Homo sapiens: one gene and its partner. The protein of the gene in region 2 interacts with the protein of the main gene of each other region in a pairwise test. Each region holds a gene or a part of one and is shown on either strand. Other genes may lie near its edges.

The links. The genes of interacting proteins can lie anywhere in the genome.
Region 1: the proteins of DAO (region 2) and KLHL42 interact in binary tests that used the Homo sapiens proteins (3 or more experiments, as listed by UniProt).

Annotation. Positions count from the first base shown.
Region 1 is NC_000012.12:27,783,226-27,790,269, forward strand, and holds part of KLHL42 (kelch-like protein 42), read left to right. Parts: intron 1-4,813; exon of another isoform or gene 4,814-4,983; intron 4,984-7,044. UniProt on the Homo sapiens protein: Substrate-specific adapter of a BCR (BTB-CUL3-RBX1) E3 ubiquitin-protein ligase complex required for mitotic progression and cytokinesis. The BCR(KLHL42) E3 ubiquitin ligase complex mediates the ubiquitination and subsequent degradation of KATNA1.
Region 2 is NC_000012.12:108,875,740-108,883,123, forward strand, and holds the start of DAO (D-amino-acid oxidase), read left to right. Parts: upstream 1-4,352; 5' UTR 4,353-4,485; intron 4,486-4,570; exon of another isoform or gene 4,571-4,652; intron 4,653-7,384. UniProt on the Homo sapiens protein: Catalyzes the oxidative deamination of D-amino acids with broad substrate specificity. Required to catabolize D-amino acids synthesized endogenously, of gastrointestinal bacterial origin or obtained from the diet, and to use these as nutrients.

The DNA.
Region 1 (7,044 bases), about 81 Mb from region 2:
ATCATCCTTATCATCTTGACGCTGAGTAGGCTGAGGAGGAAAAGGAGGTAGAGGAAGGGTTGGTTTTGCAGTCTCGGGGTGGCAGAGGCAGAAGAAAATCTGAATGTAAGTGGACCCTCACAGTTCAAACCCGTGTTATTAAAGGATCAGCTGTATAAGTATATTGATAGTGGTTAACAATAGGGGAAAAGTGTTTATGTATATTAATGTGCACGGGGGTGTATCACCTTACACATTTTAAAAATTCTGAAATTGTCTAGGTTGTACTAATTATTATGGCACTTGATATTTCCATTTAACCATATCTGAGAGTTTTTTTTCTGTGTCAACAAATGTAGATCTACCTTATGCTTTTTTATTTTTTTATTTTTTTTGAGACGGAGTCTCGCTCTGTCGCCCAGGCTGGAGTGCAGTGGCGGGATCTCGGCTCACTGCAAGCTCCGCCTCCCGGGTTCACGCCATTCTCCTGCCTCAGCCTCCCGAGGAGCTGGGACTACAGGCGCCCGCTACCACACCCGGCTAATTTTTTTTTGTATTTTTAGTAGAGACGGGGTTTCACTGTGTTAGACAGGATGGTCTCGATCTCCTGACCTCGTGATCCGCCCGCCTCAGCCTCCCAAAGTGCTGGGATTACAGGCGTGAGCCACCGCGCCCGGCCTTACCTCACGCTTTTTAATGGCTGCGTGGCATTCCAGCCTATGGATGTACCATAATGTAATTAGCCCTTCCCTTATTTATGGACATTTAGGTCACTTCCATTTGCATTGGATGTTTCAATAAGCACTGCCATTGAACATCCTGGTAGATGCGTGCATGTATCTTAGTAGCCATATGTGAGTTAGTTTCATATGTCAAATTCGTGGAATCCCTGGATAGGTAGGGCAAAGTGTATGTGTTTTTTTTTTTTGTTTTTGTTTTTTTTTTTTGGGGACGGAGTCTCGTTCTGTTGCCCAGGCTGGAGTACAGTGACGCGATCTCGGCTCACTGCAAGCTCCGCCTCCCAGGTTACGCCATTCTCCTGCCTCAGTTTCCCGAGTAGCTGGGACTACAGGTGCCCGCCACCACGCCTGGCTAATTTTTTTTTTTTTTGTATTTTTAGTAGAGAAGGGGTTTCACCTTGTTAGCCAGCATGGTCTCGATCTCCTGACCTCGTGATCCGCCCACCTAGGCTTCCCAAAGTGCTGGGATTAAGTTGTGAGCCACCGCGCCCAGCTGTGTATGCATGTTTTAAATTTTGTTGAAGCTGGGTGCAATGGTTCACGCTTGTAGTCCCAGCTACTTGGGAGGCTTAGGCAGGAGGATCACTTGAGCCCAGGAACTGAAGGCTGCAGTGCACTCTCATCGGGCCCGTGAATAGCCATTGCACTCCAGCCTGAGCAACATAGTGAGACCTCATCTCTATAAACAGTTAAAAATAAATAAATAAATAGATTTTGGTTGCTCCCGCCAAATTGCCCATCAAAAAAATTGTTCTGATTTCCTCTTCCATCAAAAGTGTTTGTGCTTGCCAGTTCCCTATACTCTTGCCAAGATAGAATATTATCATCTTTTTTTCCCCAAACCTAATGGGCAAAAACACTAGTGTGATTTTTCCCAATTAGAAGAGAGATTATTCTTTTTATATGTTGGTTGGCCATTTGTATTTCTTTTGTAAATGGTCTTTGCCAGTTTCCTAAAAATTGGCTTATTTTCTTCACATTCATTTGAGAAGTTCTATGTGTGAATACAGATATTAATCTCTTGTCTGTTATGTAATGTCGTGCATGTTTTCCCATGCTGTTATTTTTTCTGCAGTGTTCAAAAATAAGATCCCAAAGTGACTGGGTAGGTGAAATTGTTGCATAGAGGGGTGGGTGGGAGTTATGATGAAGCTGAGAGCTATCGCCCCACCAAAAGAGGGCTCCACCTCTCAACCATGGCTGGTTACTTCTACGGGGAAGGGAGGAAATGTTGCCAGACATCCAAATATCCCTTTATTTTTTCTTTTTTAAAGAAATGGGGTCTTGCTTTGTCACCCAGGCTGGAGTACAGTGGTGTGATCATAACTTACTGCAGCCTTCAACTCTTGGGCTCAAGCAATCCTCCTGCTTCAGCCTCCCCAGTAGCTGGGACTACAGGCATGCAACACCATGCTTGGTTAATTTTTTAAAATTAAAATTTTTTCTTTTGTAGAAATGGGGGCTATGTTACCCAGGCTGGTCTTGAACTCCTGGCCTCAGGTAATCCTCCCACTGTGGCCTCCCAAAGTGCTAAGATTACATGCCACCATGCCTGACCCTCCATTATATCTTCTAATTGATTATTGATGCTGTATTGGAAATTGTACCCTTCTTTAGTTCCCTCTGCTTTGACTCAGGTATGACATATCTCCTAGGAGTTCCTTCCCGAACTCTGGCTTGGGCTGAGTGTTCCGTGTCTGCTCCTCTAGCATCTCATGCACATTCCCCGACTTGAATTGAAATTCTCTGTTGTTGTCTCTCTGCCTTCCGATCAGGAACTAGGACTTACTCAATGCTTATGTATAGCCCTACTCCTAACAAGATGTCCAATAATAATAGGTGCTTAAAATACGTGTTTTCTTTAAAAAAAACTATGGAATATATTTTTACATTATTGTAATAAAAGTTAATGTATAATTTTATATTTCGCTTTATTTGTAACACTATAGTGAACATTTTTACCTTGGTAACAGTCATTATATTTATTTAGAGTAGCTGAGAAATAATGAGAGACATCATTTAATTGAACACTTAACTCTGCAGTAGGTACTGTTCCCGCTGCTTTGCATGAATTATCTAACTTATTCTTCACAAGGGCTGTTAGGCAGGTTCCCATTCTAAAGAGACAGAAAGTGAGGCACAGAGAAGTAAATTGCTCAAGGATGTGTAATAAGTACAGCAACCAAAATGTAAATATCCATTGAGTAGTTATAACCACTTAAATTGTTTATAAGTTTTGGATTTTAGACTTGCAGGGACCATCTTCATGCACATTTCCCCCCTTCTTTAAAAAAAATTATTTCCTTCTAAAAAATAGAGCACAGATCTTTTGTGGTACAGTGCTACTTTTCAAAATTTCATCATGTGTGCCTCAGCTCCACGACAGCCTTTAAGCCCAGCATTCTTCTAGTCACTGTTGGATGTACAGAAACTGATGACGTAATTGCTGCCCTCAAGAAGTTTAAAATTGAGTTTAGGTGATGAGACAAGTAAAAATGAAACCTAGCACAGAGTTTTTCCTGGATGAGGCATCCAATACAGGTTATGCATGCACTGGAAGAAATTTGGAACCTTGAGAAAGAAAACCAGATTTTGGCCTCTGGCTATGCAGAATTTCACATCTACTTTGATTCACCTTTGTCGGAGACTGCTTTGGGATGTATCAGTATTTTACTTTGATAAAGGGGTCAAATGTAGAGCAGTTCACTTTTCCCAGGGACTGAATAGTGCAGTGATCCAGAATCTTAAATAGCAGGAACTCTGGGATTGAAAGAGTTTTTTTTTTTTTTTTTTTTTGAGACAGAGTCTCGCTCTGTCGCCCAGGCTGGAGTGCAGTGGCCCAATCTTGGCTCACTGCAAGCTCCGCGTCCCGTGTTAACGCTATTCTCCTGCCTCAGCCTCCCGAGTAGCTAGGACTACAGGTGCCCGCCACCATGCCTGGCTAATTTTTTTTTGTATTTTTAGTAGAGATGGGGTTTCACTGTGTTAGCCAGGATGGTCTCGATCTCCTGACCTCGTGATCTGCCTGCCTTGGCCTCCCAAAGTGCTGGGATTATAGACATGAGCCACCGCGCCCGGCCAATTGAGAGATTTTATAAAGCCTTCTGCACTCTGGAGAAGATAGTGGGTGCTATATGACCATCAGAGGGTAAAAAAGAAATGTTTTGCTCTGTAGGCCAAGTGTGCAACACTGCCTGATGGTCTGAACGTGGGTTTGATCTCACAAATTGTCAGGATGTAACTCTTCACACATAAAAGCTTGTGAGACCTCTAGGCACGGCGGCTCACACCTGTAATCCCAGCACTTTGGGAGGCTGAGGCAGGCGGATCACCTGAGGTCAGAGGTTCGAGACCAGCCTGGCCAACGTGGTGAAACCCTGTCTCTACTAATAATACAAAAATTAGCTGGGCATGGTGGTGGGCACCTGTAGTCCTAGCTACTTGAGAGGCCGAGGCAGGAAAATCGCTTGAAACCGGGATGGGGAGGTTGCGGTGAGCCAAGATCAGACCACTGCACTCCAGCCTGGGCAACAGAGTGAGACTTTGTCTCAAAAAAAAAAAAAAAAAAAGCTTGTGAGATCGAGGGTGCTTGCTTTCCCTTTAATCAGTGATAACTTGCAGGAACTGACCACTGTTGCAGCAGTTGGTTCATTAAGGTTCTCCATTTCCAGAGCTTTCTCTAGTCTTTTCCATTGCCCTGCACTTTAGCTCTGAAAATGGAGTTGGAGTGAGTCCTCCTGTTCCATGTGTGAATACAGCAAGGCTGAGAGAGAGACTTTAATAAACAAGTGTCTCCTGGCAGAGATGGAATTGCAGTTGTCAGCCTTAGCGTTTGCTGAGCTGTCCCTTCTCCTCTCAGCCAATGTTTACCATTTTTGGAGCATTTCTGTGGTTGATGTTGTAGTAGAGCCTGGGAATAGTGCAAGAAAGAAAACTGTACGTCTATTCACACTCCCCCCCAACTCCCCATTTAATTTTGGCCAACAGTTTAAATTGCTTTTTGCATCTTTGCTTTTGGAGTTTCTTAGAGCTGGGCATAGGTTGCAACAATGACTACCTCTATTTTCTAACCTTTCCCCTTCTCCCCTTCCTAGTCCCTAGGGGAAGTTAATGCGTAGGGACATGGCAGAAGGCAAGTAGATGAAGGGGAAAGAGGAGACAAAAGGACCTGGATGGCCCACAGACTTAAGCAGTCGTGTTCTGAGTGGTTGAGAAAGGACTTTTGAAAGGATCTTGGCATTTTGTTCTAATTTTTACTCTGATGGTAAGCAAACTTCTTTCTCTACATAGGGGGTCATAATGATGGTTTTCATTTCTTGAGCTCTTACTCTGGGTCAGGTATTGTAGTCACAACTTGAGGTGTCACTTCATATTAATGCTCACAACATCTCTGTGAGGTAGATGTTATTAATCCCATTTCCTTAAAGTGGAAACTGAGGCTCAGTGAGTTTAATTACCTTCCACATAATCACAGGGCTAGACTCGAAGCCACCCAGACCTCTGTGTCATCTTGCCTTCCTATGGTTGTATGTAGCTACTGTTAATCCTTGAGATCTGCGTGCTGGTGTTAAGCATGTTTCATGTTACTTAGCTTTTAGGGGTTTAAAGAGCTTTTTAAGCCACGCACGGTGGCCTAGCTACTTGGGAGGCTGAGTCAGGAGGATTGCTTGAGGCTGGGAGTTCAAGGCTGCAGTGAGCCATGATCAGGCCACTGCATTCCAGCCTGGGCAATGAAACGAGACCCTGTCTCTTAAAAAGCTCTCCTTTTAAAAAAAATTTTTCTTATAAGTGACCTTGAAATTCAATTGTGGTTTTATCCAATTTTCTCACTTAAAACAGAAATTCTAATGATAATATTTTTATTTATTGCAAGGAACAAGTATATAGCTATGATAGATGACTTGTTACTTGGTCTTGAAATTCTTCTTTTTACCTCGTGAACATAGTGTGTTAAATTAAGAAAACACTGTAGAGATGATAATTTTGAAAAGTAGTTGATAGCTTGAATTTATACCTTTACCATTCAGGAGGTGAAGAGTGGAAGAATTATTTTCAGAAAGTTGGAAATGAAGCAGTAAGTGATGAGAATTTGTGGATGAGAGAGCACAAAACATCACAGTCAGTGACTGTTGCAGTTGACAAATGAGAAACCAACGCTCCCAAGGTTAAGAAAAACTTAGACTTAGGACACCCAGAGAAGCACTCCCTAGAATGCCAATGGAGAAAGACTTATCTCTGCAAGTGCTGTCCTTTTCAGCTCTTACTGCATGCCAGATATTGTGCCCTTCTTATCCCTACTTAACAGATGAGAAAACTGAGGAACAGATCAACAGATTCAGTAATTTGTCTAAGGTCAGACAGCAATTGATGTGTGATGTCTGAGACTTCCCTGTGTAAGCCTGGACTCATAACCTTTAGCAGTATGCCTCTTTATTAAATGGTCTGTTTTTAGGTGGCAATTTCATCTTAAAACAAATTCAGCATTAAAAAGTGTTTCTCTTCAAGTGAATTTGAGCGTGTTGGGGTCTGGAGAGATGGAATCATTTACTTTAACTGCCTATTCATTGGTCTCAAAAAGAAGCCCCTTACATGTTTGCTTAGGACAAATGATTATGCTGGATAAATACTAAAAACTGTTTTGATCTTACAAAATTTACTATCTGTGTACCTTTGGGGAGCAAAAACAAATTGCGGCTGGGAAAATTTAGTGCTTGTTTACAAGCTTTATTTCCTTTGGTTCCCCAAATTTGCACACACAGAGAGGGCATCATGGTTGGATTTTAAGGACCATTGGCAGCAAGAAAGGTAAGCAGCAGGAATCAGGGACCCCCCAGTACCTGCCACCCTGACGTCTGTTGGCACAAAAAAGTGGGCTGGCTGGCTGGCTGGCTGGCTTTAAGGGACAAGACGAGGCTCTTGATGAAGAGTACTCTATTCACGCTCTGATTGGAAAAACAAACTAAAACACATTTAGATATAAACATGATAGGAACCTTTAAAAAATCTTAACTGTTTAGTAGGTGCCTATTACTAACCTAGTTTCCATAGTGTAATGCATCAGTTTTATTGAACACTTTTTAGGGGATCAAGCATGGGCTTCTTGTTTACTGCTTCTTCTTAATCTACTCCCTTATATAAGTTTTTTGTGTGTGCATAGCCTCTACCTCCATTCTTTCTTAGTATATTATTATTTTTGAAGACATCATTGTGTTGGGGTTGGATGTGGTCTTGAAATTCACTTGGTCTAGCACCTTTATTTCAAACACTAGAAAACAGAAATTTGAATGATAGTATTTTATCTCTGTGTAGTAGTTTCTGATAGACT
Region 2 (7,384 bases):
TCAATTAATTTTGTATGTTCTTGAATTTCATAAAAGTGGAAGTATGCAATATGAGCTCTTAAGTGTCTGGCTGCTTCTTCTTAACCTAATGACTGAGATTCATTCAGGTTGCTATATATAACAGTATTTTCCCTTTTCATTGCTGTATAATATTCCATTGTGTGAATTTTTTTTTGGAGGGGGGAGTTTTGTTTCCTGAAAACACCACAATTTGTTTATCCATCCTCTGTCTCATAGATATTTGGTTGTTTCCAGTTTGGGGTGTAAATTCAAAATAAAATCCTAAGGGTCCACTAAATGAACACCCTTCTTGGCAAAGGGAACCCCAGAAAAACTTTAAAAACTTTGTTTCCAGCCATGATGAGACAGGAGGTCAGGCACACCACATTACACTCCCTTCCTTCCTTTTGTGGTTTAGATACAAGAAAAGATCAGCATCAATGCTAAAATAGAGGGCTGAGTATGGTGACTCACACCTGTAATCCCAGTCCCCTGGGAGACTGAGGAAGGCAGATCACTTGAGGCCAGAAGTTCGAGACCAGCCTGGGCAACATGGTGAAACTCTGTCTCTACAAAATAAAATAAAATAAAATAAAATAATTAGCCAGGCACGGTGGTGCGTGTCTGTGGTCCCAGCTACTGGGGAGGCTGAGGTGAGAGGATCGCTTGAGCCCAGGAAGCAGAGGCTGCAGTGAGTCATGATCTTTCCACTGCACTCCAGCATGGGTAATAGAGTGAGACTCTGTCTCAAAAAAAAAAAAAAAAGAGAGAGAGATTATAAGACTGACAGAACAGACTTTTTGTGGCAATAAGATACCAAATTATAAACACAGCCTAAGGCCATGTCAGGCAAGGGTTAAGTCAGGTGCCCCTACTCTTAAGGAATAAACTATGTTCTAATTATGTTACAAGATTTTTCTTTTTCTCTAGCAGCGAAACAAGCACTGGCCTCAGAAGAAGCAATATTAAAACAGTTACAACTCATCTAGCACACAGACACCCAACTGACACCCTGTTCCTCCAGTCATAACAACAACTACAGCTTTGATTGAACAAGAGACTGAGTTTGGTAACTTTCTCCTAATAAAAAGATCACTGACTATGGACTGCTTCTGGTGGGGTTACGAAACCGCAACCTCATGTGCCTGCATTTCCTGAAAAGACATTTTGATGTGTAGGTTCTAATTGTAATACATTGATTGATTGATTGATCAATTGATTGATTGAGATAGGGTCTTACTCTGTTGCCCAGGCTGGAGTGCAGTGGCACGATCACAACTCACTGCAACCTCTGCCTCCTGGGCTCAAGCAATCCTCCCACCTCAGCCTCCCAAGTAGCTGGGACTACAGGTGCACGCAACTGCGCCCGGCTACTTTTTGTATTTTTTGTAGAGACAGGGGTTTCGCCATGTTGCCCAAGCTGGTCTCAAACTCCTGGGCTCAAGCGATCCACCCACCTTGGACTCCAAAAGTGCTAGTATTATAGGCATGAGCCACCATGGCTGGCCTAATTGTAATACATTTAAATGTTAAGTCTCCACCCCAAAGTGAACATGGGTTGTATGTTACATGCACATTTGTTCATACACATGTGTTGGGGCCACCTTCATAAATATTCATAGCTTCTCCTGTAACCTGCTGGATATATCATTCAGCCAACCCCTTCAGCACAAAGCTCCTAACCCAACCCCTCCTCCTTCAAAGTGCCCGTCTCTGTTCTTGGTAGGAGGCATACTTCCCAGGCCATGGACTGGTCACCTTGTGGGCTATAACCCCTTATAAGAAATAAGATTTCTTCTCCTCTCTGAATTTACACATTTGTGATTTTTTTTTTTTTTTTTTTTTTAGTTAACAGGGGCTATGAACATTCTTACAGAAGCCTTTTGATTGATGTGTGTTTTCATTTATCTTGGGTATATATATAGGCGTGGGCATGATAGATATTAGGATAGCCATCTTTAACTTCAGTGGATGCTGGAGCAAGTTTCTGAATTTCAACTCTGAAGTGGGGATGATAATAACAGCACCTGCCTTACAGGGCTGTTTCGAGATTCAAAGAGAAAATCTGGGTAAGGCAGGGTGCGGTGGCTCACGCCTATAATCCCACCACTTTGGGAGGCCAAGGTGGGCAGATCACCTGAGGTCAGGAGTTCAAGACCAGCCTGGCCAACATGGTGAAACCCTGTCTCTACTAAAAATAGAAAAACAATGAGCCAGGTGAGGTGGTATGTGCCTGTAAACCCAGCCACTCGGGAGTCTGAGGCAGGAGAATTGCTTGAATCTGGGAGGCAGATGTTGCAGTGAGTTGAGATGGCACCACTGCACTCCAGCCTGGGCGACAGAGTGAGACTCTGTCTCAGAAAAAAATAAAAAAGAAAAAAAGAAAATCCAGGTATTTAGAATTGGTACACCGCAATTTACAAAACGTAAATTATTGCTGTGATGGCAGTGGGGAGCATGAAGATATTGGACTAACTTTTATGAATGTTCAAGTGCTCCCATGATGAATTAAACACACAGGGAACTTTATAAGGGCCATATGTTATATAAGTGATACATGACTATTGTATTAAAATTCAAACTAGTTAGATATAAAGTAAAAAGTGGGTTTCACCCTATCCATTTTTTATTATTGAAGAAAAAAAAATATGTCATAGCGTGGTGGCTTATGCCTGTAATCCCAACCCTTTGGGAGGTCGGGGTGGGATGATTGCTTGAGGCCAGGAGTTTGAGACCAGCTTGGGCAAAATAGCAAGACCCTGTCTTTACAAAAAGTAAGTAATTTGGCTGGGTGTTATGGCATGCATCTGTAGTCCTGGCTAGGCTGAAGCAGAAGGATTGCTTGAGCGCAGGAGTTCAAGGCGCCACTGCACTCTGGCCTGGGTGACAGAGTGAGATCCTCTCTCTCTCTCTCTCTCTTTTTTTTTTTTTTTTTTTTGTTTTTTGAGACTGGGTCTCACTCTGTCACCCAGGCTAGAGTGCAGTGGCTTGATCTTGGTTCACTGCAAGCTCCGCCTCCCAGTTCAAGTGATTCTCTTGCCTCAGCCTCCCGAGTAGCTGAGATTACGGACATGTGCCACCACGGCCGGCTAATTTTTGTATTTTTAGTAGAGATAGGGTTTCACCAACATGTTAGCCAGGCTGGTCTCAAACGCCTAACCTCAAGTGATCCATCCACCTCGGCCTCCCAAAGTGCTGCGATTACAGGCAAGAGCCACTGCGCCTGGCCTGACCCTGTCTGTTATCTTTTCTTTTTCTTTTTTTTTGTTTTCTTTTTTTTTTTTAGACAGAGTATCGCTCTGTAGCCCAGGCTGGAGTGTGCAGTGGTGCCATCTTGGCTCACTGCTACCTCCACCCACCAGGTTCAAGCAATTCTCCTGCCTCAGCCTCCTGTGTAGCCAGGATTACAGGCACACCCCACCACTCCTGGCTGATTTTTTGTAATTTTAGTAGAGACGGGGTTTCGCCATGTTGGCCAGGCTGGTCTCGAACTCCTGACCTCAGGTGATCCACCCACCATGGCCTCCCAAAGTGTCAGAATTACAGGTGTGAGGCACTGTGCCCAGCCGACCCTCTTTTAAAAAAGGAAAAAATACTATGCAGTGAGTATTTTGCATGCATTTTCTTATTTCATCTTCGTCTTTTTATTTGATGATACTAAAGGCAGGTGTTAGAGGCTGGATTGCTAAAGCTGACCCAAAGAATGCCTCCCTCAGGGCTGGTTGGTCCCTCTCTCTCAGGCCTCAGTCTTCCCATCTGTACAGTGAGGTGCCTGCAGATCTCTGGGCTCTAAAAATCACAGCTCCATGTTTATCCCTGGCAGAGGAAGGGCCTGGAGTCCTGCTGCTTGCGTCTCTGGGATACGGGAGCAAAGAGCCACGCATCCTCATGGCCCACACAGGCGTCACCTCCAGTCTCTCCTTGGCCTCATCTCCCCAGCGTCCTGGAATGGCATCGGGCTGGCCCAGGGAGCCCCTGTCCTGTGCCTCTCCTTTCCCCTCAGGGGCTGCCAGGCTGACCACCCCCACCGCAGGCCAGGCCTACAGTGCCCCATGGAACGTCCTGACCCTCCCCCAGGGTGGCAGCAGGAAGAAGGAAGAAAGGGGATCCTCTCCAGCTGGCCAGAGAGACAGACCTTCTTGTGCTCATCAACCCTCCAAGAATGCCTGCCCTCCCTCCTTCCCCCAAGGCCTGTCCACAGGGGCTTGAGATCAGCCAGAAAAGTCAGGCAACTTTTCAGGGACTGGGAGCGAGGTCTCCCGGCCGGGCCTGGGTCCAGTCTCTGTGGGCAGTGCAGTGCCGAGCCCCACCCCTCAAGCCGTGCCCTGTCCATAGCTCCAGACTTTGACCCTGCACTCCAGTCCGGGCTGGCGGACAGAGGGCTGGAAACAAGACGCTCCAGAATCAGGAGCTTCCCCTCAGGAAATAGCATCCTGTGTCCCCGCACTGCAGTTGTCTGGTCTCTCCAGCAGTTTGGTACTTCCGGTGAGTGGCAGATGCACCTTTGAGCTGGGGACAGGGGTTGGGAGAGGGGAGAGGCAAAGGATTTCATGTCCTCCCAATGTCAAAGACAGGGCTCAACATTACAGCCTAAGGCAGGTGACAGGAAAGGAGAGATCCAGCCTCTCAAACATCCAGCAGAGAGACCATAGGTAAGTGATTTTTCCCTCCCCAAGCCTCAGTTTCTTCACCTGGAACATGGGGATCATAACTCCCCTCTTACAGCGTGAGTCTGAGTGTTAAAAGAGGTGGTGCATGTAAAGTGCTTAGAGCAGATCTAGGCACATAGCAAGTACTCAAATGGTAGTTATTATTATTTTTGGTGGGGGAGTTGGTAGGCTGGTTCTCAAACTTTTATAGCTTCTGTTCCATTTCAAGGATAAACTCTGCAAATAACTTCATGAGAAGTAGCCGTGTGGTGCAACCAGGGAGAACTAATTATGTTCATTCAAATGCCTCATCTCTGGCTTACTGATTTTTTTTTTTAAAAAGAAGTCTTTCATATTCTTTGCTATGGGCACATAGCAATCAAAGGCATCAGCTGTCTCAGATTGCCTTCTAGGGGACAAGGGAGGTCCTAGGCAGATAAATGCAAGACTGAAAGACAAGCAGAAAGCATCAAGTGGCAACTGCATGCCAACTGCCTAAATATTTTTTTGGAGCAGTGCAGAAAGCGCCGATAGAACTGGGTCTAGGTCCGAATGCTGTCCCATACTGACTGCGTAACCTTGGGTGGGTGACTTCTCCTCCCTAAACCTCAGTCCCAGCCTCCAGAATGAGGGCGGTAACCTTCCCTACTTCCTAGAGCAGTTGAGAGGATTGAGAGGATTATGTCGGTACTGCATCTACAGGTGTCTGGCAAGTGGCAGAGACCAAAATACATTGGTTCCCTTCCTGCTCCACACTTACACAGACATTCTAATCACACACACACACACACACACACACACACACACACAAATATAATAATCCCAGCTGTTTGCATCTTCTGGGATACATACTCCAAGCTTGCTGGGTTGAAGTAATGATGTAAAACAGAGGAGAACGGCAACACTAATAAAAACATCAGCAACAACACGAAAATGTCCAACCGAATAACTGAGCTGGGTGCGTTTAAGTCCAAAAGCTCATTACCTACACGCATGAATGATTTTACCTAAGGCTGGATCTGCCACATCTGACAATCTGTCTCTGGCTTGTCATGAGGACCTCATGCATTTATTTTGTATTTTAAAACACACACACACACACACACACACACACACACACACGTTGCTATAATCAGTGTCAACTTTGACTCATATCTTGAATTTTTTTAAAAAAAGATAATTGACTTAGGACTCACACTTTTTTCCTTTTAAATTTTTTTTTTTTTTTTTTTTTTGACAGAGTTTCACTCTTGTCACCTGGGCTGGAGTGCAATGGCATGATTTCTGCCCACTGCAATCTCCACCTCCCAGGTTCAAGGGATTCTCCTGCCTCGGCCTCCCGAGTAGCTGGAATTTCAGGCGTGCACCACCATGCCAAGCTAATTTTTTTGTATTTTTGTAGAGACAGGGTTTCACCATATTGGCCAGGCTGGTCTTGAACTCCCGACCTCAAGTGATCTGCCAGCCTCGACCTCCCAAAGTGCTGGAATTAAAGACGTGAGCCACTGTGCCCGGCCTTTTTGATTTTCCATTCTATTCCTACCAACACTCTAAAAATTCCTACAGGCATTTTATTTTATTTTATTTTATCTTATTTTATATTATATTTTATGTTTGAAATGCAGGACTCTGAAGCTTCAGCTGTTCCTATTTACCGGCTTGATTCTCAGATTTTTCAAACCATGTGATTTACTGGCAAGCATGGCATTTAAGCACCTAGGCTTATGAGTCAGGCTGGCCTGGGCTCTGCCTCTCACCACCTGGGTGTCCAGGAGCTGATATTCCAGTGAGGAGACAATAAGGCAAGGAGCTTTGTCAGCTCTCATAAAAGTTTATAGATGAGGTCGGGCATGGTGGCTCACGCCTGTAATCCTAGCACTTTGAGAGTCTGAGGCCAGCAAATCACCTGAGGTCAGAAGTTTGAGACCAGCCTGGCCAACATGGTGAAACCTTGTCTCTACTAAAAATACAAAAATTAGCCAGGCATGTTGGTGCATGCCTGTAATCCCAGCTACTCAGGAGGCTGAGGCAGGAGAATCACCTGAACCCGGGAGGCAGAGTCTGCAGTGAGCCAAGATTGTACCATTGCACTCCAGCCTGGGCGACAAGAGTGAAACTCTGTCTCGAAAAAATAAAGTTTATAGATGAGGAAACTGAGGTTCGATTAGGATTAACCAACTCATCCTGGTTTGCCTGGGACTCTGATGCACTGACTTTTAGTCTGAAAGTCTGCATCCTGGGAGGACCCTCAGCCCTGGGCAAGCTGGGGAGGTTGGTCACCCTCACTCAGTCAAGTTGAGCAACTTGCCCAGGGTTACATGGCTGGTGTGTGCCCAAGTCAGGCTGCGAACCTGGGTCTGTCTGACTCTCAGCCTGGGCCATACTGTCTCTTAGATTCTTCATGGAGAATTAGGAAAAATACAGAAAGCCCTTTATTCCTCTGCCTTCTCATTGTTAACATATAAAAATGGTCAAGCGGGCGGGTGCAGTGGCACACACCTGAAAGCCCAGCGCTTTGGGAGGCTGAGGGGGGAGGATTGCTTGAGCCTAGGAATTGGAGGTGGCAGTGAGCTATGATTGTGCCACTGCACTCCAGCCTGGGTGACAGAGTGAGACCTTGTCTCTTAAAAAAAAGAAAAAGAGTGGTCAGCTCTCCGGAAATTATGCAGACAGTCAAAAAGCCCAGAGAGGGGAATTAACTTAGCCAAGGTCGCACAGCAAGGCAGAAGTGAAGC